Homo sapiens: one gene and its partners. The protein of the gene in region 2 interacts with the protein of the main gene of each other region in a pairwise test. Each region holds a gene or a part of one and is shown on either strand. Other genes may lie near its edges. The genes, in order: MISP, SPATC1L, TRMO, PARN, NUTF2, ZBTB4 and PIAS2.

What was found.
Region 1: the proteins of SPATC1L (region 2) and MISP interact in binary tests that used the Homo sapiens proteins (3 or more experiments, as listed by UniProt).
Region 3: the proteins of SPATC1L (region 2) and TRMO interact in binary tests that used the Homo sapiens proteins (3 or more experiments, as listed by UniProt).
Region 4: the proteins of SPATC1L (region 2) and PARN interact in a two-hybrid assay, tested with the Homo sapiens proteins (one large-scale study listed by BioGRID and IntAct).
Region 5: the proteins of SPATC1L (region 2) and NUTF2 interact in binary tests that used the Homo sapiens proteins (3 or more experiments, as listed by UniProt).
Region 6: the proteins of SPATC1L (region 2) and ZBTB4 interact in a two-hybrid assay, tested with the Homo sapiens proteins (one large-scale study listed by BioGRID and IntAct).
Region 7: the proteins of SPATC1L (region 2) and PIAS2 interact in binary tests that used the Homo sapiens proteins (3 or more experiments, as listed by UniProt).

What each region holds. Positions count from the first base shown.
Region 1 is NC_000019.10:757,612-761,111, reverse strand, and holds part of MISP (mitotic interactor and substrate of PLK1), read right to left. Parts: coding exon 2,386-3,500; intron 1,204-2,385; coding exon 1,073-1,203; intron 1-1,072. UniProt on the Homo sapiens protein: Plays a role in mitotic spindle orientation and mitotic progression.
Region 2 is NC_000021.9:46,170,960-46,174,459, forward strand, and holds part of SPATC1L (speriolin-like protein), read right to left. Parts: intron 1-3,500.
Region 3 is NC_000009.12:97,905,501-97,909,000, reverse strand, and holds part of TRMO (tRNA (adenine(37)-N6)-methyltransferase), read left to right. Parts: intron 1-3,500. UniProt on the Homo sapiens protein: S-adenosyl-L-methionine-dependent methyltransferase responsible for the addition of the methyl group in the formation of N6-methyl-N6-threonylcarbamoyladenosine at position 37 (m(6)t(6)A37) of the tRNA anticodon loop of tRNA(Ser)(GCU).
Region 4 is NC_000016.10:14,623,761-14,627,260, forward strand, and holds part of PARN (poly(A)-specific ribonuclease PARN), read right to left. Parts: intron 3,428-3,500; coding exon 3,346-3,427; intron 1-3,345. UniProt on the Homo sapiens protein: 3'-exoribonuclease that has a preference for poly(A) tails of mRNAs, thereby efficiently degrading poly(A) tails.
Region 5 is NC_000016.10:67,853,433-67,856,932, forward strand, and holds part of NUTF2 (nuclear transport factor 2), read left to right. Parts: intron 1-3,500. UniProt on the Homo sapiens protein: Mediates the import of GDP-bound RAN from the cytoplasm into the nucleus which is essential for the function of RAN in cargo receptor-mediated nucleocytoplasmic transport.
Region 6 is NC_000017.11:7,466,132-7,469,631, forward strand, and holds part of ZBTB4 (zinc finger and BTB domain-containing protein 4), read right to left. Parts: intron 1,197-3,500; 5' UTR 1,126-1,196; intron 680-1,125; 5' UTR 671-679; coding exon 1-670. UniProt on the Homo sapiens protein: Transcriptional repressor with bimodal DNA-binding specificity. Represses transcription in a methyl-CpG-dependent manner.
Region 7 is NC_000018.10:46,890,008-46,893,507, reverse strand, and holds part of PIAS2 (E3 SUMO-protein ligase PIAS2), read left to right. Parts: exon of another isoform or gene 1-77; intron 78-2,453; coding exon 2,454-2,928; intron 2,929-3,500. UniProt on the Homo sapiens protein: Functions as an E3-type small ubiquitin-like modifier (SUMO) ligase, stabilizing the interaction between UBE2I and the substrate, and as a SUMO-tethering factor.

The DNA of each region.
Region 1 (3,500 bases), on a different chromosome or scaffold from region 2:
TCTCAAAAAAAAAAAAAAAAAAAAAAGGACATAATATTCCTCATGGCACTAAATATTCCTCGTGTCATTAAAAGTGACGTGAGGAATATTTCATACTGACAAAAGGAGCTCTCATCCAAGAGGATAAACATACATGAACAATTACATGTCTAACAACAAGGCATCAAAATTCATAAAGTAAAACCCCTAAGGCAAAGCTCTGTGGCCTGTAGGTCCTGGAGTCAAGCCTGGGTTCATGAGCTGCCTAACCCTGGGCATGTGAGACCACCAGGGTGCTAAAGGTGTGGTTCATTGGAAGCCCCGAGCCAGCGTGTGACAGACACATCCCTCCGTCTCTCCCTCTCCCTCCCTCCCTTCCTTCCTCGCTTTGTTCCTTCCTTCCCTCCATCCCTCCCTCCCTCCTGCCTTCTCTCTCTCTCTCTCTCTTTCTTAGAAGTAAATATCTGTGGCCAGGTGCAGTGGCTCATGCCTATAATCCCAGCACTTTGGGAGGCCCAAGTGGGCAGGTCACTTGAGATCGGTTTGAGACCAGCCTGGCTAACATGGTGAAACCACGTCTCTACTAAAAATACAAAAAAATTAGCCGGGCGTGGTGGTGCACGCCTGTAATCCCAGCTACTCAGGAGGCTGAGGCAGGAGAATCACTTCAACCCGGGAGGTGGAGGTTGCAGTGAGCCGAGATCGTGCTACTGCACTCCAGCCTGGGCGACAGAGTGAGACTCCGTCTCAAAAAAAAAAAAAAAAAAAGAAACTAATGCTGGTGACGATGACAAATTGCCAGTGTCCTCCTCCTCCAAGCAGAGTTGGTCCTTTGGTCTTTGATCCTGGAGATGACCTCCTGATGGGGACAAAGACCCCAGCTTATATGGCCTCTCCAAGCAGAAGCCCAGAGATACAAGGACACCAAGTTTATCATCTTCTACCTGACATCTGCAGGAGACTGAGGCACGGCCAGGGGTGGGGGTAGTGCTTGAACCCAGGTCAGGCTTGAGTCCTGCTTGAACTTCCTGTGGCCCTAATAGGGGCTGTCTGACCTCAGCCTGGCCTCTGCAGAGACGGGTTCCAGACTCACCCATTGCTCCTTCTTTCTCTGCCCGGGAGGAGCACTGTCCACTGGATCTTCCACTGTCCACGCCACGTTTGAGTGTAGGTGGATGGGGCTGAAGAAGGGAGACTCAGACACCGAGTAACTGCCCGTGATGCCTGTAGGGGAGCAGGGAGGGCAGAACATTAGAACATTTGTCAGACCTCTGCTCGGGAGACAGAGTCTCTAGCCAGCAGCTAAGGAGACAGATGTATGGACAGACAGAGCAGATGACTATCCGGGAAACTGACAGATTGACCAAAGTAGCCAGTCAGGAGAAACTGGATGCACAGATGGGCCGACATGCAAGGTGAAGAACATTAAAAGTGGCCGGGCGCGGTGGCTCACGCCTGTAATCCCAGCACTTTGGGAGGCCGAGGTGGGTGGATCACGAGGTCAGGAGATCGAGACCGTCCTGGCTAACACGGTGAAACCCCATCTCTACTAAAAATACAAAAAAATTAGCCAGGCGTGGAGGCAGGCGCCTGTAGTCCCAGCTACTCAGGAGGCTGAGGCGAGAGAATGGCGTGAACCCGGGAGGCGGAGCTTGCAGTGAGCCGAGATCGCGCCACTGCACTCCAGCCTGGGTGACAGAGCGAGACTCCATCTCAAAAAAAAAAAAAAAAAACATTAAAAGTGACACAAGGAATATTTCATATTGTCAAAAAGGTGCAACTGTCCAAGAGGATAAACATATATGAACAGGCCGGGAGCAGTGGCTCATGCTTGTAATCCCAGCACTTTGGGAGGCCAAGGCAGGGTGGATCGCCTGAGGTCAGGAGTTCAAGACCAGCCTGGCCAACATGATGAAACCTGTCTCTACTAAAAATACAAAAATTAGCCGGGAGTGGTGGTGGGCACCTGTAATCCCAGCTACTCAGGAGGCTGAGGCAGGAGAATCGCTTGAACCCAGGAGGTGGAGGTTACAGTGAGTTGAGATCCTGCCACTGCACTCCAGCCTGGGCGACAGAGCGAGACTCCGTCTCAAAAAAGAAAACCGAAAAACAAAAAACAAAAACAAAAACAAAACACACAAAACATATATGAACATTTATGCGCCTAACAACAAGGCATCCAAATCCATAAAGCAAAAGCCCTAAGGTAAAGTTGACATTTCTCTCCAAAATCTACATTTTTAATAGACAGGCAGACAAACCAGCGACTGAGGGGATGAACAGTCAGGAGGCAATGTCTCCCCAACCCCAGCCCTTTGACAGCCTCAAACTCCACCTCCCCACCCTCCCCTGCTCCAACCTCTGAGACCCTGAGCCAAGCAGCCACTCCCTGGAGCCCCTTCTCACCGGATGCCTGGGAGGAGCTCCTGGAGTTCTGGTCAGAGTTCTCATCTGGCGTTGGGGAGAAGACCTCTGGGAAGAGAGCATTTCTCCGCTCCTCTGCCACCTCTTGCTCCCGGCGCAGGACACTCTCCCTCTCCCTTTCCAGCAGATCAGATGACTGGGACTTCTGCAGCCTCAGTGCAGGGGCCCCAGCCACCTCCCAGCCCCAGACATGGGGGACTTGGGCCTGCTGGGGCTCGTCTGGGGCCCTGAACCGCAGAGGACGCAGGCGGAAGTACTCCCACCGCACGACACCCCTGTTGGCTTGCGGGCATCCCCGAGGGGGCTTCGATGCCTCTTGCTTTGTGCTCAGGGGTTTTCCAGAGGATTCTGAGAGATGCCTCGGGGACATCGTGGCCTTTGGTGAAGTCGCAGCCTTGGCCTCCGCTGTGGAGAGACTGCTGGGCTTGCCGAATGCTCCGAAGGCTGAGAATTCTAGCTGGGGGGTCCCGGGGCTCAGGTACGGCTGGTAGGCATCAGGTGGGATGCGGTTCACCTTCCTCACTTCTGGAGCTGGGTCGGCCGCACGGGCATCTGGGGCCGGGCTGAGGATGGAATCTGAGCTGAGGGCTCTCCGGAGTCCGGGCTGGGGACCCTCCGAGACCCAGTCGGGTGTGGACGCCCGGCCCACGTGCAGGCCCTCCCGCCGGTGGTCTTCCTCACGCTGTGTCTCCTGTACTATGTCCCGCTGCACGTAGAGGGACGGGCGCCCTCTCTCCCGCCGTGGGGCTGTGATCAGGCTCAGCTTGGTCAGCAGCGGCCTGGTGGGGATTTCCACCAGCTCCTGGTGGTCGGTTGCCTGCCGAAGCCCCCTCTGCTCTCGCAGGTCTGCCTCACGCTCCTGAGCCAGACGGATCTCCCGCTCGATGGGCGTCTCCTTGGGGGTCCCCGGGGACTCCACTGAGGCCAAGGAGCCAGGGTCATCCACAACTTGGACACTGGCCCAGGTGGGCACAGCACGCACCTTGTTCTCTTCCCTGACCACCCCCTTCACCTGGGGCTTGATGGGAACCACGTGCCCGTTGGCCAGGTGGGGCTTGTTGAAGGCCTTGGGGGCCTGGCTGGCCCCTGGGGTTGTG
Region 2 (3,500 bases):
CTCTGTAAACATCCTCTGTGGATGGGGAGGAGCCTCCTGCTCTGTGAACATCCTTTGTGGATGGGGAGGAGCCTCCTGCTCTGTGAACATCCTCTGTGGTCTGACGCTGGGCTCAGGTGTGTTCACTTTCTTTGCTTTCCACACCAAGGGGGAGGGTCCATGCCCACCAACACCTCCTGGCCCCACACCCTCATGAGGACTGAATATTCCCCAACCAGGCTGATGAGGTCATGTGGCATTTCCCCAATCCCTGGCCAAATTTAGCTTATCTATGCCTTTATGGCTTATGAAATTCTATTCTACCTCCATGTCATGTGTATTCTCCTAGCAATAAAGCAAATACATATTAGAGAAAGTGTTCGGAGCCATATCAAAAAATTATACCTTAAAATGTGCCTACTGGAGCTTGCAGTGAGCCAAGATCGTGCCACTGCAATCCAGCCTGGGCGACAGAGCAAGAATCCATCTCAAAAAAAAAAAAAAAAATGTGCCTACAAAGGAACCAACTAATCTTCCCTCTGAAATGTTTTCCAAGGAAAAAAAGTTCGAAAGAAGCAAAGTCATCAGCGTGTGCCCGGCCTCCTGCCACGTGGGAGGCCTGGAGTCCTCAGGCTTCACAGACCCCCCACCCCAGACACTTTTCAAATTATAAAAGAATATTATGTACAATTATGTATTAATTAAAATTTCAATAAAAGGAGATAGCCTGGAAAATTACTTTCAAGTGACTCAATAAGAAGTAGAAAACCTAAATGAACCAATACACAAAGAAGGAAAATCTAAAAGTTATGAAATGATTATTCCCCAGAGGGCTGCAGGCCTGGATGGTCTGTGGGTGAGTGTGCCAAGTTCCCAAACAAGTCATAATCCCGACATCATACAAATGAGGCTGGAACCGTAGAACAGGTTAAAAGATGCTCAATTAGGTTTCAAAATTTGTCACAACTCTGATGTCAAATTCCTACAAAGATAACCCCCAGAAAAAAAAAAAAAAAAAAAAAAACCATGGCCAGGCCAAAAATAATTGCACAAAGTCTCATCCAAACATGATCAAGAACACACAGCACGAGGCAGGAGTGTGCACAGAGCATGAGGCAGGAGTGCAGAGCATGAGGCGGGGGATGCACAGAGCATGAGGCAGGAGTGCAGAGCATGAGGCGGGGGATGCACAGAGTGTGAGGTGGGGGATGCAAAGAGCGTGAGGCGGGGGATGCACAGAGCGTGAGGCGGAGGATGCACAGAGCGTGAGGCGGGGGTTGTGCAGAGCACAAAGCGGGGAGGTGTGCAGAGCACAAGATGGGGGTGGAGAGCATGAGGCAGGGGTGTGTGCAGAGCACGAGGCGGTGGGGTGGAGAGCAAGAGGCAGGGTGTGCAGAACCCAGTGGCTGTGCAGCGTAGCAAGATACCAGATACGGTCCCTGGCAAGAAGCTGAGATACCTCCACTGGTACAGAGATAGGCTCACAAACACCGAACAAGATGAGCCATTTCTCAAATTTTCTGTTTTCCAAAAATAAGAACAGGAAGGACTCTTCCACAGCATCCAGCCTGTGCAAACCTCCCTCCTCTGGGCAGATGGGACCGTTGGTCCTTCCCACAGCTGGTCAGGAGGACCAGGATGCGGCCAAAACCCTCTCTCACCTTCCCTGGAGGAGGCCCCATGAAAGTCAAGGCCAAGGCCCGAGTTCTGAGTAATAAGGACAAAGACAGAAATAAGAAGTTCATGTGGATTGGAAGGGCGGGATGGCCGGCCAGATGCAGCCAGATGATACAGCTCCCACGGAGGGCCTGAGATGACTGGTGAGCTTCTAACACATCTTCAGAGGGAAGGTGCTGAGGGCAGATGGAGGGAGCACACAGAAGCTGGGCTGAAGGGGAGAAAGCTGGGAACCTGCCTGGGACTACTGAGCACTGGTGCTCATTTTTGGACCCACAACAGCTCTGGGGAAATGGGGGAGTTAAACGGGCAAGGAGCAACCCACTGTTGCCATGGGCCTCTGGAACCCCAGCTGGGGGAGACCCCTTGCCCACCATGGACACTCTAGTTGGCAGGGAGAGCTGCTTAGAGAAGTGATGGGGGCAGCAGCCAGCTGAAGCAGAACCCAGAGGGTCTGGTGCAGGAACACAGCCAGGGACGGCCGTCCCCCAGGCTTGATTTGCTCCCACAGGAGACTTTGGACCTAGGGGAACTGTCAGACCTGTTCTCTGCAGGGTGGTCTTACCCATCAGATGGGACCAGTCCAACCTGAGCACCCCTTCGTCTGCTGGCCTCTCCTGGGGCCCCAGCCTGGCCATGCCTGCTTGCAGGGCAGTCTTGGGTGCCCTGGGGGTCTTCACCATAGCTTCTGTGCCAGCAGACTGTGCCTGGCCAGTGGAGAGCTCCAGTGAGACAGCCCCGACGGCCACACACCAGCCTGCCTGCTCCCTCCTCATATTGTAGCTTCCCCTGGGCCCAGGCAACTCCCCACATCACTCTGCTGATGTCTGCACAGGTGGGTTTTGATTTCCTTCCCCCACCAGCATGCAGGAGTCCAGTGGGCCTCCCCTTTCCCTACAGACTTCCATTGCAGGTGAAGCCTTGGCAGACACAGAGCCAGCAAGCCCCATACCCGCCAGAACCCTGCCTTTGACCTAACACTGAGCAGAGAACAGTGGATCCTCCCCCACCCTGAGCGATCACTCCTGCTTGCAGGGCACAGAAAAGGCACCTAGACCTGTGCCAACCAGCACCCCACCCATGCCTATAGTACCTCCAGAGTAACTGCACACAGTCTCCAACAGGAGCCCCCCATCCCCACCCCAGCTGCTTTGCCTCCACCACTGTGGTGAACCCCCACAGGAAGGCAGGCACTCTGCATCTGCCAGCCACTCTGCTGTAGCTGCAGTACCTCAGCCCCCCAGTGCAGTGGATTCCAAACCTCAAGGAGCCAGAGAACAAAGTCAGGGCCCAAAACAAGTCCCCCAGAGCTAGAGCATGCAGAGTCCAGGAGTTGGCAGCTGGGCACTGGCCCCTTAAATATTCCATAAATGAAGCCAGTTGGCTGAATCCACCTTATACCACAATCAAAACCTCAAGGTCATCAAACAGACCAGGCATGGTGGCTCATGTCTGTAATCCCAGCACTTTGAGAGGCTGAAGCAGGTGAATCACTTGAGGCCAGGAGTTCAAGACCAGCCTGGCCAACATGATGAAAACCCATCTCTACTAAAAAATAGAAAAATTAGCCAGGCATGGTGTTGGGTGCCTATAATTCCAGCTACTTGGGAGGCTGAGGCAGGAGAATCACTTGAACCTAGGAGGCAGAGGTTGCAGTGAGCCGAGATTGTGCTACTGCACTCCAGCCTGCCTGGGAGACAGAGCAAGACTCTGTCTCAAAAAACAAAACAAAAAAAAAAAAAAAACAGAATGGCAAGCTAGATAAAGAACCAAGACCCATTGGTATGCTGTCTTCAAGAGACCCATCTCACATGCAATAACACAAATAGGCTCAAAATAAAGGC
Region 3 (3,500 bases), on a different chromosome or scaffold from region 2:
CCTGGGTGACAGAGTGAGACTCCATCAAAAAGAAGAAGCTGGTTGCCAAGGAGATGTCAGATTGCAAAAAGCTGTTCTTTGTGTTACAACTCAGTAAGGAGCCAGCATAACCATATAAAGAGGGAAGTTCATTTATTCATTCTACAGTTGTTTACTGAGCTTCTGCTAGGTACCAGACATTGGTCTAGGTTCTTGGAATACATCAGTGAACAAAACAGATATAAAAAACCCCTGCTGTCATGGAGCTTGCATTCTAATGGGGAGGAGAGAGACAAATTAAAAGTATAATAAGCAATCAAGTTATTAGACCAAACATATTCAACATTATATAATATTAGAAGGTGATAAGAGTTACTGAAAAATTTAAGAATACAGCAGGCTTGGAGTGTTGTTACTATTTTATTTTATTTTTGAGACAGGGTCTCACTCTGTCACCCAGACTGGAGTGCAGTGGCAAGAACATGGCTTACTGCAGCCTCAGCCTTCCGGGCTCAAGCAGTCCTCCCACCTCAGCCTTCTGTGTAGCTGGGACTACAGGTGTGCACCACAACACCTGGCTAATATTTTGATTTTTTTTTTTTTTTTTTTTGAGACGGAGTCTCGCTCTGTCGCCCAGGCTGGAGTGCAATGGCTCGATCTCGGCTCACTGCAAGCTCCGCCTCCCGGGTTCACACCATTCACCTGCCTCCGCCTCCCGAGTAGCTGGGACTACAGGCGCCCGCCACCACACCCAGCTAATTTTTTGTATTTTTAGTAGAGACTGAGTTTCACCGTGTTAGGCAGGATGGTCTCGATCTCCTGACCTTGTGATTCCCCCGCCTTGGCCTCCCAAAGTGTCCAGATTACAGGTGTGAGCCACCGTGCCCAACCTATTTTGAATTTTTAAAGAGACGGGGTCTCATTTTGTTGCCCAGACTTGTCTTGAACTCTTGGGGGTCAGGGGATCCTCTGTCTCAGCCTCCCAAAGTGCAGGGATTACAGGTGTGAGCCACTGCACCTAGCCTGTTGCAATTTTAAATAGGTGGCCCCAGTGGGCCTCACTGAGAAAGACACATATGAGCAAAGGTCAAAGAGGTGAAGACATGAGCCAGCCTGTCCAGAGAAAGGACATGCTGGCCTGAGGGACAGCCAGTGCACAGCCGCAAAGTGGAGGGTGCATGGCACGTTTGAGGTCATGTGGTCAGAGTGGACTGAGGAGGGCTGAGCGGAAGGATATGAGGTCAAAGAGGCACTAGAAAAGGGACGAGGTCACCTAAGGGTTTTATAGGCCATTGTAAGGACTTGAGTTTTGATCTTGGGAGAAGTAAAAGGCAGAGGAACTTGATGTCCGTATCCCCAGAGAGCAGGGGACCATCTCTGGGGTCAGATCACTACCTGTGTGATTTCTGGGATGTCACACCTCAGTGACATGCAAAGGCAAGCTGGAGTTCCTTATTGAGACAATGAAGACTTTCATTCTATATCCAGAAAATAAAGGCTTACACAACCAAAGATACTAGATTTTCCCCTGCTTTACTAGCAGGGAGAGAATGAAGAGGCTAGGGGGGTATTTGGCTTTGATAATCCAACCTGAAGGAGGTTTTTCTGATGGGAAAAAGAAGTCTAAAAGTTGGGACTGGAGATACATGCCAACTGACTCTGAGATTTCCCCATTTCTTCCTGTCAGAGCCACAGCCAGCCCACACTGTTGCCTTTTGCAAAGGAAAAGCCACCCCTTCCTCTGGGTGGAGGCAGCCACCTGCCAGGGCCCAGGAACTGGTTTTAGCCCCAACATGCAAACTTCAGCCAAGTGCCGTATGCAGGGCACCCCCTGCACTTCTGGACACGGCAGTCTCGTGGTCATGAGTGGTGATGCCACTTGAGGGTTGTGCTTCTCTTTGGCTCCTAAGGCTTTACTTTTAAACAAAGCTTTTGATTTTAAAATTGATCTTTTTATTTTTAAAAGTTTTGTTGATAGAAATCATTACATCACTGTATACAGTTGATGGGAGGAGGCTGGTCAGTTGTAAAAGGATTTTATGGTGGAACAAAACAGTCCTGCCTTCTAGACACTTTATGCTTACCACTTGTCCTGTGGTTATTGTCTAATGCAAACTACTATGGAAAGTTTTGTTTTTCTTTCTTTTCTTTTTTCTTTCTTTCTTTTTTTTTTTTTTTTTGAGACGGAGTCTTACTCTGTCACCCAGGCTGGAGTGTAGTGACGCGATCTCGGCTCACCGCAACCGCCTCCTCCCGGGTTCAAGCGATTCTCCTCCCTCAGCCTCCTGAGTAGCTGGGATTACAGGCGTGAGCCACCACACCCAGCCTGGAAAGTTTTGTTTTTTAAACTGCAGTGCAGTATGTGTCAGATGTTTGAAATATGCCTTACTGATTAAAAAAATGATTAAAATGAGAAATTACGCAGTGTAACTACAAAACAGGAACTGATTGATAGCAAACAGCAAAATTCAGAGCTGTTGCAGAAATAAGAAGTGACTTCAGGAAGTTCTGAGTCTAGAAGAGGTTAAAGGTGTTGAAATGGGAGGAAGTTTGGTGCTGGAGTAAAGGTCTGGGCAGAGTGCTGTGGGCACTCTGAGAGGAGAATCCTGACTTGTGTCTGGGAGGGAGTGTGGAAGGAAACAGTGCTTGAGCTGAGCCTGGCAGGATGAGTAGGCAGGGAATTGGGGGAAGGCACCCATGCCAGATAAACGGCCAAGCAGAGGCCTGGAGCCTCTCCCAGAAACGCCGTCACAGGGGAGTGTGATGAGCTCTCCTCATTTTTGAGTGGCCTTCAGAGCCATTTTCTATGAGCCATGCAGTAAAGGAACCTTATTGCCATATAATTGATTTTTTTTTTTTTTTTTGAGATACAGTCTCTTTCTGTCACCCAGGCTGGAGTGCAGTGGTGCAATCTTGGCTCACTGCAACCTCCACCTCCCGGGTTCAAGTGATCCTCCTGCCTCCTGAGTAGCTAGAATTACAGGCGTGCGCCACCATACCTGGCTAATTTTTTTGTGTGTGTGTATTTTTAGTAGAGATGGCGTTTCACCATGTTGGTCAGGCTGGTCTCAAATTTCTGACCTTGTGAGCCTCCTGCCTTGGCCTCCCAAAGTGCTGGGATTACAGGTGTGAGCCACCGTGCCCAGCCCATATAATTGATTTTTGACTAAAAATTGTACTTCATGGCTTTATTTACCCAACCTGCTTATTAGATATGGCCCACAGTGATTTTTGGCTGCTTGTAGAAATCAAATCCACTCCAAGAGGGATAAAGATCCACTGCCACCACAGATGATATTTTGAGCAGGGACAGTGTTTTTAAGATCTGTACCTTCCTGGAAGGGGCATTTGGATGTATGTGATGTTGTAGTTATGAAAAACTAGGTCACAGTTACTTTCTAAATTTATGTTTTATACATACCATATTAAAAATAAAATACATTAAAAATCCTACAAACATAGGAAGTTTTGCTGTTTCTTAGGGACACAGATGTGAGAGAGTCCCAAAGCAAAGGGATGTT
Region 4 (3,500 bases), on a different chromosome or scaffold from region 2:
CAGGAGGCAGAGGTTGCAGTGAGCCGAAATCACACCACTGCACTCCAGCCTGGGCGACAGTGTAAGGCTCCATCTCAAAAAAAAAAAAAAGAAAAGAAACACATCTGTTACTCTACATACAGCAGTTATGCTTCAATTTTTCACAACCATATATATAAAATACCTTCTATGAATTCAACTACAGATCTTCAGCCTGAAAAAGGAAGAGGAAGAAAAGAAAAAGGAGAAGACAAAAATGATGTAAATGTCATGCTATGCTGACTGCCCTACTATTCTACAAACACACTCTTCTGGGTGTGAGTGTGGTTCTGTCAGCCCATTCCTCCACATCTTGACAAGCATATGGGAGCATCTCACTGCGCACACAGGGTCTTATTTTTTAAAGAACATATTAAATTGTTGTATCCTCAAATCCTATATGCTTTAAGGGTGATAAGAGCTTTCTGAGAGAGATTTTGACCCAATTTTCACCCTACTTAATAACTCCAGAAACTAATGCCCTTGTATGCAACTCTGCTACAACTATAGAATTTTAAATAAAACAAAAACCTTAAATGAGAGACCAAAGAAAATCCAAAAATACATTAACCTTTTCATACAATTCCCAAATTTAGAGTCTAAACCTTTTCTCTGCCTTTGCTTTTCCACACTAGAGAATCCCGGCATTTTTATTCATCTGTTTTAGACATTACTCTCTGGGCTATCTTCAAGTCTATGATAGCTTTTTTTAAAGGAGTGGCTGGCAACTACAACTGTATTAAGTATTCCAGGTGTACAATCATGGTTTGTACAATGGGTGAAGTTCCTCTGATCTGTTTCCAATACATTTCTCAAAATAACCAGTTTTGTCTTGGTTGTTTAGAACAGAGTGCCATCGGCCAGATGTGGTGGCTTACGCCTGTAACCCTAGCACTTTGGGAGGCCAAAGTGGGAGGATCACCTGAGGTCAGGAGTTTGAGACCAGCCCGACCGACATGGAGAAACCCCATCTCTACTAAAAATATAAAATTAGCCGGTGTGGTGGTGCATGCCTGTAATCCCAGCACTTTGGGAGGCCAAGATGGGAGGATCACCTGAGGTCGGGATTTCAAGACCAGCCTGACCAACATGGAAAAACCCTATCTCTACTAAAAATATAAAATAAGCCGGCGTGATGGTGCATGCCTGTAATAACAGCTACTCAGGAGGCTGACGCAGGAGAATCACTTAAACCCGGGGCTTTAGCCTGGGCAACAAGAGCGAAACTCCATCTCAAAAAAAAAAGAACAAAGTGCCATCCCCAAGGTGTCTCATTGCCACCCTCTGCTTTTGTTTGATTAACCCCTGGCCAAAGCCATGGAACCCACTTTAAATAATTCTGTGTTGCTGGTACTGCTAGAAAACTATATCCACACAAATTTCCCAACTGAGCCTACTTTTCCCTCAATGAAAATTTACCAAAAAAAAAACAAAACAAAACAAAACTGTAAGGCCGGGTGCGGTGGCTCAGCACTTTGGGAGGCCAAGCCGGGCAGATCACCTGGGGTCGAGAGTTCGAGACCAGCCTGATCAACATGGAGAAGCCTCACCTCTACCAAAAATACAAAATTAGCTGAGCATCTTGGTGCATGCCTGTAATCCCAGCTACTCGGGAGGCTGAGGCAGGAGAATCGCTTCCACCCAGGAGGCAGAGGTTACAGTGAGCCTAGATCATGCCATCACACTCTAGCCTGGACAAGAAGAGCGAAACTTCATCTCAAGAAAAAAAAGAAAAGAAAATTTATAAATACTCTTTAAGTATCCCATACCACGGTGATTGACAAATAGCTATTAACTGATTGCAGGGTAAAGGTAAAATGTCAACTGGTTTACTTGCTAATTTAGGAAACTGTCTATAAGACCAGAATTTAACCTTCACCTTTTCTCTTTTGCCCATAAGCATATGATTAACTCTCGATTTCATTTGTTTATATACTGCCAGTTTTGAGAAAGAATTTGACATAACTCAATCACTTGAAGCCTACCCTCGAGGCTTTCATAACTGCATTACCATTAATCTGCAAGAGAAGGGAAAGATGGCAAGACTCAAATGAATTCATGTTTTTAGTGGGAGAGAAGATAGGATGCAAGATTTTAAGGGAGAAAAGATTAAGACTTATCTTTAATCACATAGCCACACAACCATACCCCTTACTCACATTCTCCTTATCCATTACAACAGATAATCAAAAGAGCAGAAAGGAAACAGTGATATTTACTGAGTGTCTACCAGGTCAGCTACAACACCTCTAGAGGGAATATCCTGAAGGAGAACCTCCCTAATATTGACCCATCAATTAAGCTCTCTTCTCCTCAAGAGAAACAGTAGTTTTTTTTTCTACCCCCCTTTCCTAATTAGTGAGCTTGAGAAAAGGAAGTCAGCATAAATACTTGAACCCCTTCTGCGCTTTCTCTTTTTGCATAGGATACACACATACTCTGCTTTTCCAGAAAATAAAGGTCTACACCCTCAGAGTGGATGCGAGGAGAATGAGTGAGGATAGGGAGAAGCCTCCAAGTCTTTTGTTTATTTTAATTTTTATTTTAAAATAGAGATGAGGTTTCACTATTTTATGCCCAGGCTGGTCTCAGACTCCTGAGCTCAAGTGATTCTCCCGTCTTGGCCTCCAAAACTGCTAGGATTACAGGTGTAAACCACCACATCCAGCCAAGAAGCCTGCAAGTCTTGATGTGTAGGTGGTTCAACTTGGGGGTAAAATAATAAAAATCCCAAATGGAGTTACGAAACTATGTTCTCAAATTCAGCTTTAGAATTACTAAACCTCATGTTCTCATATCTGTCTGTCTGTCTCTGCATCTTATTCCTTAATTCATTCTTTTTTTTTTTTTTGAGCCAGAGTCTCGCTCTGTTGCCCAAGCTGGAGTGCAGGGGCGTGATCTCGGCTCACTGCAACCTCCACCTCCCAGGTTCACGCCATTCTCCTGCCTCAGCCTCCCTAAGTAGCTGGGATTACAGGCACCCATGACCACACTCGGCAAATTTTTTTTTTTGTATTTTTAGTAGAGACAGGGTTTCACCATGTTAGCCAGGATGGTCTCGATCTCCTGACCTCATGATCCGCCCTCCCCGGCCTCCCAAAGTGCTGGGATTATAGGCATGAGCCGCCGTACCTGGCCCTCCTTAATTCATTCTACAGCAAAGGAGGAGATAACAGGGTCATGAATTTATTACCCTAAAACTGAAGGTCAAAGGTGAAATGATTTGCCCCAAAGCCCAAAGTTAATAGAGAACCAAATTCTGATTTCACATTTCCATGCTGCCTCATCAGCAATTCAGAAAAGAAAAATCTCAATTATGCTACTTACCTGACAAACAAATTTGACATCTGGTGAGGATCTATTGAAGGGTTTCGGGAAAACATAGAAGTTAAATGACTTCGTTATATACCTGGGATAAGATAAAAGGAGACTTAGGAGGTGACATTGTGCCACAAAAACGGAATTCCCAACGTTTGTTAACA
Region 5 (3,500 bases), on a different chromosome or scaffold from region 2:
CAGCATCCTCCACCTTCTGGGTTCAAGAGATTCTCCTGCCTTAGCCTCCCAAGTAGTTGGGACTACTGGCTCCTGCCACCATGCTTGGCTAATTTTTGTATTTTTAGTAGAGACAGGGTTTCATCATATTGGCCAGGCTGGTCTCGAACTCCTGACTTTGTGATCTGCCCACTCAGCCTTCCAAAGTGCTGGGATTCCAGGCATGAGCCATTGTGCCTGGCCACACCTGCTAATTTTTATATTCTATTTTTTAGTTTTTGTGGAGACAAAAGTCTCACTATCTTGCCCAGGCTGGTCTTGAACTCTGGGCTCAAGCAATCCTCCTGCCTCAGCCTCCCAAAGTCCTGGGATTACAGATGTGAGCCACTGTGCCCAGCCAAGTTTTACAACTTCTTGTAGAGACGGGATCTCACTGTGTTGCCCAGGCTGGTCTCAGAACTCTTGAGCTCAGGTGATCCTCCTGCCTCAACCTCCCAAGTACTGGGATTATAGGGAACAGCCACCACGCCTGGCCTGTTGTGCATGGCCTTCTTTTTGAGATGGAGTTTCGCTCTGTCACCTAGGCTAGAGTGCAGTAGCATGATCTCAGCTCACTACAGCCTCTGCCTTCCAGGTTCAAGCAATTCTCCTGCCTCAGCCTCTCAAGTAGCTGGGACTACAGGCACGCGCCACCACGCCCAGCTAAATTTTGTATTTTTAGTAAAGATGGGGTTTCACCATGTTGGTTAGGATGATCTTGATCTCTTGAACTCTTGGTCTGCCCGCCTTGGCCTCCCAAAATGCTGGGATTACAGGCGTGAGCCACTGCTTGCCTGGCCTGTGCGAGGCCTTCTAGTCCCCTGCTTGGAGCATGGGTTTGTGGCTTCTCCTCCTTTCACTGAGACCCTCCTATGGTCACTTTAAGTGCCCAATAGTTGTTCCTGTGGTGGTACCCATCAGGGCATCTTCCCAGGCACCAGACAGGAATTCTCCACAGAGGTGGGAGGTTCAGCAGACCTGGTCAGGGAGGCTCCTTGGATGTTCCTTCAACAGATGGCCCTTGCCTGGGGGCTTACAGAGGGAAACAGGAGACAGCAGGGACTTTGGAAATACCAATAGCGCTTGTTTTAGAATCCAATTCAGACCATTTTCGTTGAGGCCTCCAGGACAGAGGAATAGTCCTTTTGGGGCAAGGGGAGTGAATCCTAAAAGTTTTCCACAGAATAGACATTGAAAGTTGGGCATGATTTCTTGGCCGGGCACAGAGGCTCACACCTGTAATCCCAGCACTTTGGGAGGCCAAGGTGGGTGGATCATCTGAGGTCAGGAGTTTGAGACCAACCTGGCCAATATGGCAAAACCCCGTCTCTACCAAGATTCCAAAAAATTAGCAGGGCATGGTGGCAGGTACCTGTAATCCCAGCTACACGGGAGGCAAGAGAATTGCTTGAACCTGGGAGGCGGAGGTTGCGGTGAGCCAAGATCGCGCCACTGCACTCCAGCCTGGGCGACAAAGGGAGATCTCTGTCTTTAAAAAAAAAAGTTGGGCAGGATTTCTTTAAGCTGAGGTTGAGCCGAACCTTGTGCTGGGTGCTGGTTTGTTTTTTTTTTTAATTAATGTTTTGATAGGGCATTTGAGAATGATGTTTGTGTGTTTGCAGTTCAGTTTGAGTTGGCTACCCCTTTCCTGGCTTTGTGATTCTGTGATTCTCTCTTCCTTTGATCATATATGGCAGGAATTCTTGAGTCCCTCCCTCGGGGAGCCAGCAGTGTATGGATTATCCTTGGAGTGACTTAGGTCATGTGATATTATTCACCCTCTTTTTCCTCACCCTATCAGCTGGAGTGTGCCCTCCTGGGCAGAATGCTTTGCTTGGGTCTGGGTTTGGCTGGGAACGTGTCTTAGTGGCCAAGGGAGAGGGACACGAGGCCCAGGGTGGCCTGCCTAGGGGCCACAGGGCTCCTACTGCTGGCTGACCAGTGGCCAAGAACTTCTTTTCATTGTCTGGGGCGTTACTCATTTGTTGCTGTACCTGCTGTGTGCCAGCTCCTTAAGCCCCCAGGCTGGAGACAGGGCTGCTATGGGGATAGGGAACCCTTATTAGAGAGGGGTTTCTGGGGTACCTGGGAACTGAGGGCTGTTTGTCCCAGTGTCCTCAGTAAACTGGGGGAATTTTGGAATGTTTGTTTCTTAAAGTCTCGAATGATTCCATCAGAGCCAGTGGGTCTCCCGAGGGCAGAAACTGGAAAGCTTGCTGCCCCAGGAAAGAGCTCTGTGTGGAGATACTGGTTCCACTTGCAGGTGGTTTCAGGACTAGGAGAATGCAAATTCTCAGTTGTCCTAAGGTGTAAAGCTGCTTTGACCTGCTGAGTAGGTGCTCAGGTTCTTCCATTCTGAGGCTCCATGGAGCTTGCTGATTTCATAGGGGAAGACAAGGCCTGGGCTGCATTCCTTGCCACCCGATTTTTTTTTGGCGGGGGGGGGGGATGGGGGAAATGAGAATAACTTTATTTCATTGCGGGGAGTGGGCAGATGTCCAGCCTCAGAACTTCTGGAACTGCTTCTTGGTGCCAGCGGCCTTGGTGACCTTGAGCACGTTGAAGCGTACTGTCTTGCTCAGGGGCCGGCACTCACCCACTGTTACGATGTGGCCAATCTGGACGTCCCTGAAGAAGGTGGACAGGTGTATGGACATGTTCTTGTAACACCTGATTTTGTCACTTAGGTGCTTTCTGCTACTCCACATTGGCTCTCAGCTGTTTGCATCTCGGCCAGTTTTTTTTTGTTGTTGTTGTTTTTTGAGACAGTCTCGCTCTGTCGCCTAGGCTGGAGTGCCGTGGTGTGATCTCAGCTCACTGCAACCTCCACCTCCCAGGTTCAAGCAATTCTCTGCCTCAGCCTCCTGAGTAGCTGGGATTACAGGCACCCACCACCACGCCTGGCAAATTTTTATATTTTTAATAGAGACAGGGTTTCACCATCTTGGCCAGGCTGGTCTTGAATTCCTGACTTCATGATCCACCTGCCTCGGCCTCCCAAAGTGCTGGGATTACAGGCGTGAGCCACCATCCCTGGCCCAGTTTTTTTTTTTTTTTGCTTTTGTTTTCCTTTTTGAGTCGGAGTTTTGCTCTCGTTGCCCAGGCTGGAGTGCAGTGGCGTGATCCTGGCTCACTGCAACCTCTGCCTCCTGGGTTCAAGCAATTATCCTGCCTCAGCATGCGGAGTAGCTGGGATTACAGGCGCCTGCCACCACACATGGCCAATTTTTTGTATTTTTTATAGGGATGGGGTTTCATCATGTTGGCCAGGCTGGTCTCAAACTCCTGACCTTAGGTGATCTACTTGCCTTGGCCTCCCAAAGTGCTGGGTTTACAGGCATGAGCCACTGTGCCCGGCCCCATCTCGGCCAGTTTTGTGGACATTCTAATGCTGGCTATGCCAGTGGCCTTTTGTGGTCTTAAATTCTTTCTTAACCTCTTGGAGTCTTTGTTTCCTTGTCTATAAAGTGAAGATAATCATA
Region 6 (3,500 bases), on a different chromosome or scaffold from region 2:
CAGGGGCCTGGGCCTCAGCCCTGTCACCCTCCCACTCCCCAGCTGGCCTGGGCCCGGGCCCAAAGCTGTCCTCTTCAGGCTGCGAGGTGGCCATGGGGGCTGGGGTAGGAGGTACCCAGGCATCACCTCCCTCCCCCAGGCCCTGAAGGCGGGAGATGCCCAGACGGCGCCCCAAAGCTCCAATCTCTGCTACAGCTGCCCCGTCCCCTCCACCACCAGGCAGTGCGAGCCGGGCGCTGTAGATGAAGTTGAGGACATCAGAAAACGCAGCTGCTGGGACTCCTGGCAACTCCAGGACCCGGGGTGGGGAAGAAGCAGGGGGAGAGGCTGGAGGGGGAGAGGAAGAGGAAGAGGAAGAAGAAGAAGAAGCAGAGGAGGAAGAAGAGGAAGAAGACGAGGAAGAGGAGGAGGAGGAAGAGGCAGCTGTGGTGGTGGCAGGGTTGGGTGCGGCGCCCCCAGTAGCTGGTGGAAGGGGTAGTGGGGCTGAAGTGAGCAGGGCCTCTCTGAAGAAGGGACTTGAAGCAGCCAGGACGCTGCGGTGAGCAGGGAACTTGGTGTCTCCGGCTATGAGGGTGACGTCACAGAAGAGGCCACGGAGCCGCTGTTCATTGAGCTGGCGCAGGACGGCGGGGGCATGGGACGGGTCCGTCACCTCTGCAGGGGGGGGCATGGTGCCAGCCTAGACAGTGGGAGAAGAGGCCGGGTAGAGTCTCAGAGGCTGGGCAGAGGGCAGGGGCTTCTAAAATCAGGCAGAGAGAGGATCAGGAGCTGCTGGTCAGAAACTAGTGGAAGGCTGAATCACTTCTGGTCACAGAAGTCAGGGGTTGGCCCTTAGCCACCCAAGTCTGGCCAGCATCCAAGACCAGTATGTCTAACTCACTTCTGAGGCTGGAAGAGGCCAGAGATACCTCAGGTCATGGTGAAGGTCAAGGGGTCATGACCTCTGAAGTCACAGACTAGAGATGTAAGTGAGGCAAATCTCTCTCATGGGAAGGAGGAGGAAGCTCCACAACTCCTGATAGCCATTTCACAGAACTCCCCAGCCTAGACAAAATGGCCGCCCCTGCTGGCCTGCTGCCTTGGGTCTACTTTGTCCTCACTGTAGGCCTCTGGGTACCTTCTCACCTGAGAGCACAGCCAACATGGAGTGGGGCGGGGGGTGGCTCAGCGAGTCCCTTCTGCTGGGCCTCTTCCTTCTGCGGAGAAACAGAAATTATGTCAGGGGAACCTAGAGGAGGAGCAGAAGAGGGTCCTCAAGGAGGGAAGTGAGAGGAAAAGCCCCCAGGAAGTGGGGAGGGGTGCAGTACTGTGGCCAGAGAGGACACCTGGGTGAGCCCAGACCCCTCCCCGGAGCCTCTGCCAGGTTATTTGTTTAGCTGTGTCCAGTCAAACCTGGGAGGTCACGCAGATTATTGCAGAGCCTTGTTCTGCGGGCCCAGAGAAGTACAGTGACAAGATAATTTGCATATTCCCAATTCACCTCCAAACAATATAGTAGCACAGGTCCAGTCCATAGGTTCAGGGAAGCCTGTCACAGCACTCTCAAGTCCCTTTGGCCCAATCTCCAGGGCTCAGAGGAAGTCAAAGATTTGCATGTTGTCATTTATCACAATGGTCTCATTTACATATCAAAATAATTTGTGAGTTTTTAAAAATTGGACCTAAGCTGGTAGATATTCAAATTAGGAGAGGACATCCTCACATCCTTCCAGCCCCATAAATCTTAGAAGGGGGTTTCTGGCGCAGCTGCCAGGCAACCATTGAAGACCACTGACCCATACACAACTGCCAGCTTGCTCCAGCCTCTGGAGGGCACTGGAAAGGCCACAAGACCAGGAGGCCTGGTCCCACGCCTTACTCAGAGACCTGATGCCCTAGGGATCTGGACTTAAAAAGCGGCAGAATCACAACTCCTACCTCACCTCTTGCTGGGAGACTCGTCCAGAGGGAAGAGCAAGGCCAGGCGCGGGGGCTCACGCCCGTAATCCCAGCAGTTTGGGAGGCCAAGAGGGGTGGATCACCTGAGGTCAGGAGTTCAAGACCAGCCTGACCAACATGGTGAAACCCACATCTCTACTAAAAATACAAAAAATTAGCCGGGCGTGGTGGCACGTGCCTGTAATCCCAGCTACTTGGGAGGCTGAGGCAGGAGAATCACTTGAACCTGGGAGCTGGAGGTTGCAGTGAGACGAGGTCACGCCACTGCACTCCAGCCTGGGCAACAAGAGCAAAACTCCGTCTCAAAAAAAAACCCCCCAAAAAACAAAGGGAAGAGCAGACAACTGAAACGCAAGCTCAGGCAGTCAGCAGCAGAGAAAGCACCGCGCAGCCACCTTCCCCTGCAGGCACCATCAGGGCCTTGAAGACTCTTTTCAGTTGAAGGTTTGAGTTCAAAAGCCAGACTTATCCAAAGTCACACAGCGCTGGTAATGACAGGCGGCACCTATTTAGAGATCCAGGCCCGCAGACTTGAGAGCAGAGCTCTCCGGACCCTCTCCTCTGCCCTCCACAAAGCCTGGGAGCTGTCACCCATCTTTGAGGGTGTCCTTCCGTATGCCGTGGGCCACGTGTCTTCAGAGGTGTCCGGCATCAGGAGTTCCTCATACAATTCCCATCCCCTGAAAAATCTTCTTTCCCATTTATCACTCATACTGTCTGGACTCAAAGGCCTTTTCCCCACATATACCCCATTTCACATCCCCCAAAATATTTTCCTGACACCTCTCCTGGATGGGAAGAAGGAAGATGGTAAACAGGGATGATATTCCAAAGTTTTAACAACCCTGTCTGCCAGGGACTGATGAGGTTCTGGGTCAAGTGTTGCCCTGTCAGTTGGTGAATTTCAGGTAGGTCGTAGGTCAGGCATCCTGCGGAAGGGGCCTCACTGCATTCACAGGCTGATGCCCAGGCCTCCTACTCGCCTCCATGAGAACCACTGGCTCACCGGGACCCCAAGAGTCAGTGTTTTATTTGGATTACCTCATTTGTTCCTTATCACTACCCTGAAAGGTAGCAGTTAGCTTTCCCTCCTTTTAAATTTTATTTATTTGTTTTGAGATGGAGTCTCGCTCTGCGCCCAGACTGGAATGCAGTGGTGCAATCTCAGCTCACTGCAACCCCCGCCTCCTAGGTTCAAGCGATTCTCCAGCCTCAGCTTCTTGAGTAGCTGGGATTACAGGCGTCCGCCGCCATGCCTGGCTAATTTTTTGTATTTTTAGTAGAGACAGGGTTTCACCGTGTTAGCCAGGGTAATCTTGATCTCCTGACCTTGTGACCTGCCTACCTAGGCCTCCCAAAGTGCTGGGATTATGGGCGTGAGCCTCCATGCCTGGCCACTTTCCCTCTTTAAGGCCGGGCACGGTGGCTCATGCCCGTAATCCCAGCACTTTGGGAGGCCAAGGCGGGCGGATCATCTGAGGTCAGGAGTTCTAGACCAGCCTGGCCAATGTGGCGATCTCTACTAAAAATAATAATAAAAAAAAAATTAGCCAGGCATGGTG
Region 7 (3,500 bases), on a different chromosome or scaffold from region 2:
TCCTTTGCCAAATAATGTTATCACTGGAAATATGAGATATGAGACCTCCTAGAAATTCCTCTGAGAGTCAAGCTTAGGTAGGATGACTTTGTGCTTTGTTTTGTCATTTCTGTAAAATAGCTTCCCTTAAAATGAAGAATATCTGACAATAAGTATAAGGAGTGAAGCAAAGTAGTGAATTCTGAGTTAGAAAAAATCAGTTATGTTTTATCTGTGTGATTGCCTTTTTTAGTATTAGTGTTCCACAATCAATTGAAGTATTTACTAAGATTGAGGGAAAGATGCATCGTATTACTTGCTTGGGTAAACCCTTCCCAAGAAGCTGTTGTCTTCTGTTTAATGCATGAGATGTTGAGTAAGCTGTGACTGGTTTGTTATGAGATAGGCCAAAAGTTTTCTTGTTTTCCTTCTTTGTTGTCTGCACTGTAGAGGTAACACACATTGTGGTATGTGTTCTATTAGAGTATGATTTAGAGCTACCACAGTGTGGTAGCTAGTGGCCACATGTGGCTCTTAAGCACTTGAAATGTGGTTAGTCCAAATTTAGATGTATTGTAAGTGTAAAATATACACCAGATATTGAAGACTTAGTATAAAAAAAATCCCACTGACACTTTAAAAAATGATTATTTTTAAATTACAAAAATTGATTGCATGTTGAGATGAAAAGATAGTTTTGATATATTGGGTTAAATAACTATGTTAATGTAAATTATCATTATTATTATTATTATTTTTGAGACAGTCTTAATATTGCCTAGGCTGGAATATGGTGGTGTGATCACAGTTCACTGTAGCCTCAAATTCCTGGGCTCAAGTGATCCTCTCGCCTCAGTCTCCTGAGTGGCTTGGACCACAGGCACACACACCACCATGGCTGGCTAATTTTTAAATTTTTGTGGAGACGGGGTGTTAGTATGTTGTCCAGTGTGGTCTCGAACTCCTGGGCTCAAGTGATCCTCTTGTGTTGGCCTCCAAAAGCACTGGGATTATAGGTGTGAGCCACTGTTCCTGGCCTAAATTAGTTTTTTTAATGTGACTACTAGGAGGTTTAATGTGTGTCTTCTATTAATTTGTGTTGGACAGCACTGAATTAGAGTATAAAATGGCTTGCCAGGATTACAATTTAATATTCTCTCACTTGTACATTATGAAATATAGAGACATATATAGTACACAAAGTACAGTTATGACAGTGTATATGGATTACTTTGGCATATTTAAATCTGTTTGCATTTTAGTAAACTAGCAAGTATTTATACCAACAAGTATTTAAAAACCATATAGGGTTTTAAACAGTTGCTTCTGGGCCGTCCCTGAGACTTAAAAAGTACAGAGCAACTGCCCCACATTTCCACTATACTGATGAGACAAGCAGGTTGAAAAGGAATCCCAAGTGACTGTGGAGTGTGTAGCACGGGCTGGGTTGGGGGAGTGATGAGGATGGGATGGGACACCAAACCACAGGTAGTTCTCCTGGGTAGGTTTCTGACAGGGCTTTGGTCAGCTCCAGGTGTTCTTCCTCTTTCTTGCTAGATGATGCATGTGTGGTATCTGACCCAAGTGTGATTTGCCTCTGAGTTCAGAATTGACTGGAAATCACTAAGTAGGTGGATTCCTGAGGCTGCAAGGGGTTAAAAATATTCATTAAGTTTTGCTGAAAAAATAGAAGGTGTGATGTGAAGCTGCAACTGCTTATAACCTTTGTTTTACGCCCAAGCACAAGCCAGTAGAGTAGTGTGGAGGAAATGTTGCCCTTTAAGATTGATGACTGCTCATTTCCTTGCTCTTCAAAGGTCTTTTTCTCATTTGGATACCCAGCTGGGAATTTCAGTTGTTTTAGAAGTTTGACTGCTAAATAAGATGTATGTGATTTTTTAGCTTTAATATTTTAAAATATCTTTATTATGTTGTTTGTTTGTTAATGTTTGAATTGGGGTAAAAAATTCATTGCATTTTGGATCACAGTTCTGACTTGATTTTTATGGATTTACTACTCAGCATCAAAAGTTACACATCTAACATTGTGAAAATCTGATTTTTTGTTTGGTTAATTGGCGATAATTCTGTAACAAACATTACATTGTATATTGGGAGGGGTTGGTTTTGAAAAGGAGTATATTCATTGGTGATAGATTTTATAGTCATAAAGCAAATAACTGTTTGCATTAGAGCATAATCAGATAATGAAGTGGTTAGTAGAAACCAATAGACTATAGATTACCAAAATTAAGATCTTGTACAACAAAATATAATTAACACCGTAACTTGAATGTAATTTTTACGGGATTGTCTTATGAATGGTAATGATTCTAAGTGGTATGTGAAATGCTGTTACTAGCACATGCCAATTGATAGAATGCTGGAAAAATCACATTTTACATTATATTTTAGATAGGATTTTTGTATGCTTGAGGGTGACTTGGCTTATGTTTTTTTTTCTTTCCTTTTAGAATATGGTTTCTAGTTTTAGGGTTTCTGAACTACAAGTATTACTAGGCTTTGCTGGACGGAATAAAAGTGGACGCAAGCATGACCTCCTGATGAGGGCGCTGCATTTATTGAAGAGCGGCTGCAGCCCTGCGGTTCAGATTAAAATCCGAGAATTGTATAGACGCCGATATCCACGAACTCTTGAAGGACTTTCTGATTTATCCACAATCAAATCATCGGTTTTCAGTTTGGATGGTGGCTCATCACCTGTAGAACCTGACTTGGCCGTGGCTGGAATCCACTCGTTGCCTTCCACTTCAGTTACACCTCACTCACCATCCTCTCCTGTTGGTTCTGTGCTGCTTCAAGATACTAAGCCCACATTTGAGATGCAGCAGCCATCTCCCCCAATTCCTCCTGTCCATCCTGATGTGCAGTTAAAAAATCTGCCCTTTTATGATGTCCTTGATGTTCTCATCAAGCCCACGAGTTTAGGTAAGTGTTTGAGAATTCAGTTTCTTCTGAACAAGATAGTAAATGAAATGAGAGACCTTCAACTATTGATTAATGATGTGCTGTTAATATAGTGAAATTGAGGCATCAATGCCGAATGTTTGAATATACGGATAAAAATTCGGCAACCATGACTGAAATCTAATAGAAGCTTTATTTCATATCATTTGATCTTTCTTCTTCTCCAATTCTTTTATTGTAAAATACACATAATATAAAATGTATCATCTTGATCATTTTAAAGTGTACAGTTGAGTGGTGTTAAGTATGTTGGTAATGTTGTGCAGCCATCACTGCCATCCATCTCCAGAACTCTTTTCATCTTCTGAAGCTGAAACTCTGTACCCATTAAACAATAGCCTTCCTCTCCTCCTCTCCCACTAGCCCCTGGCAGTTACCATTCTACTTCCACTGTCTATGATTTTGACTATTCCAAGTACCTCATGTCGTTGGAATCATACAGTATTTGTCTTGTGACTGGCTTATTTCACTAAATGTAATGTCCTCAAGGTTCTAGCATGCTGTAGTTTATGTTAGAATTTCTTTCCTTTTAA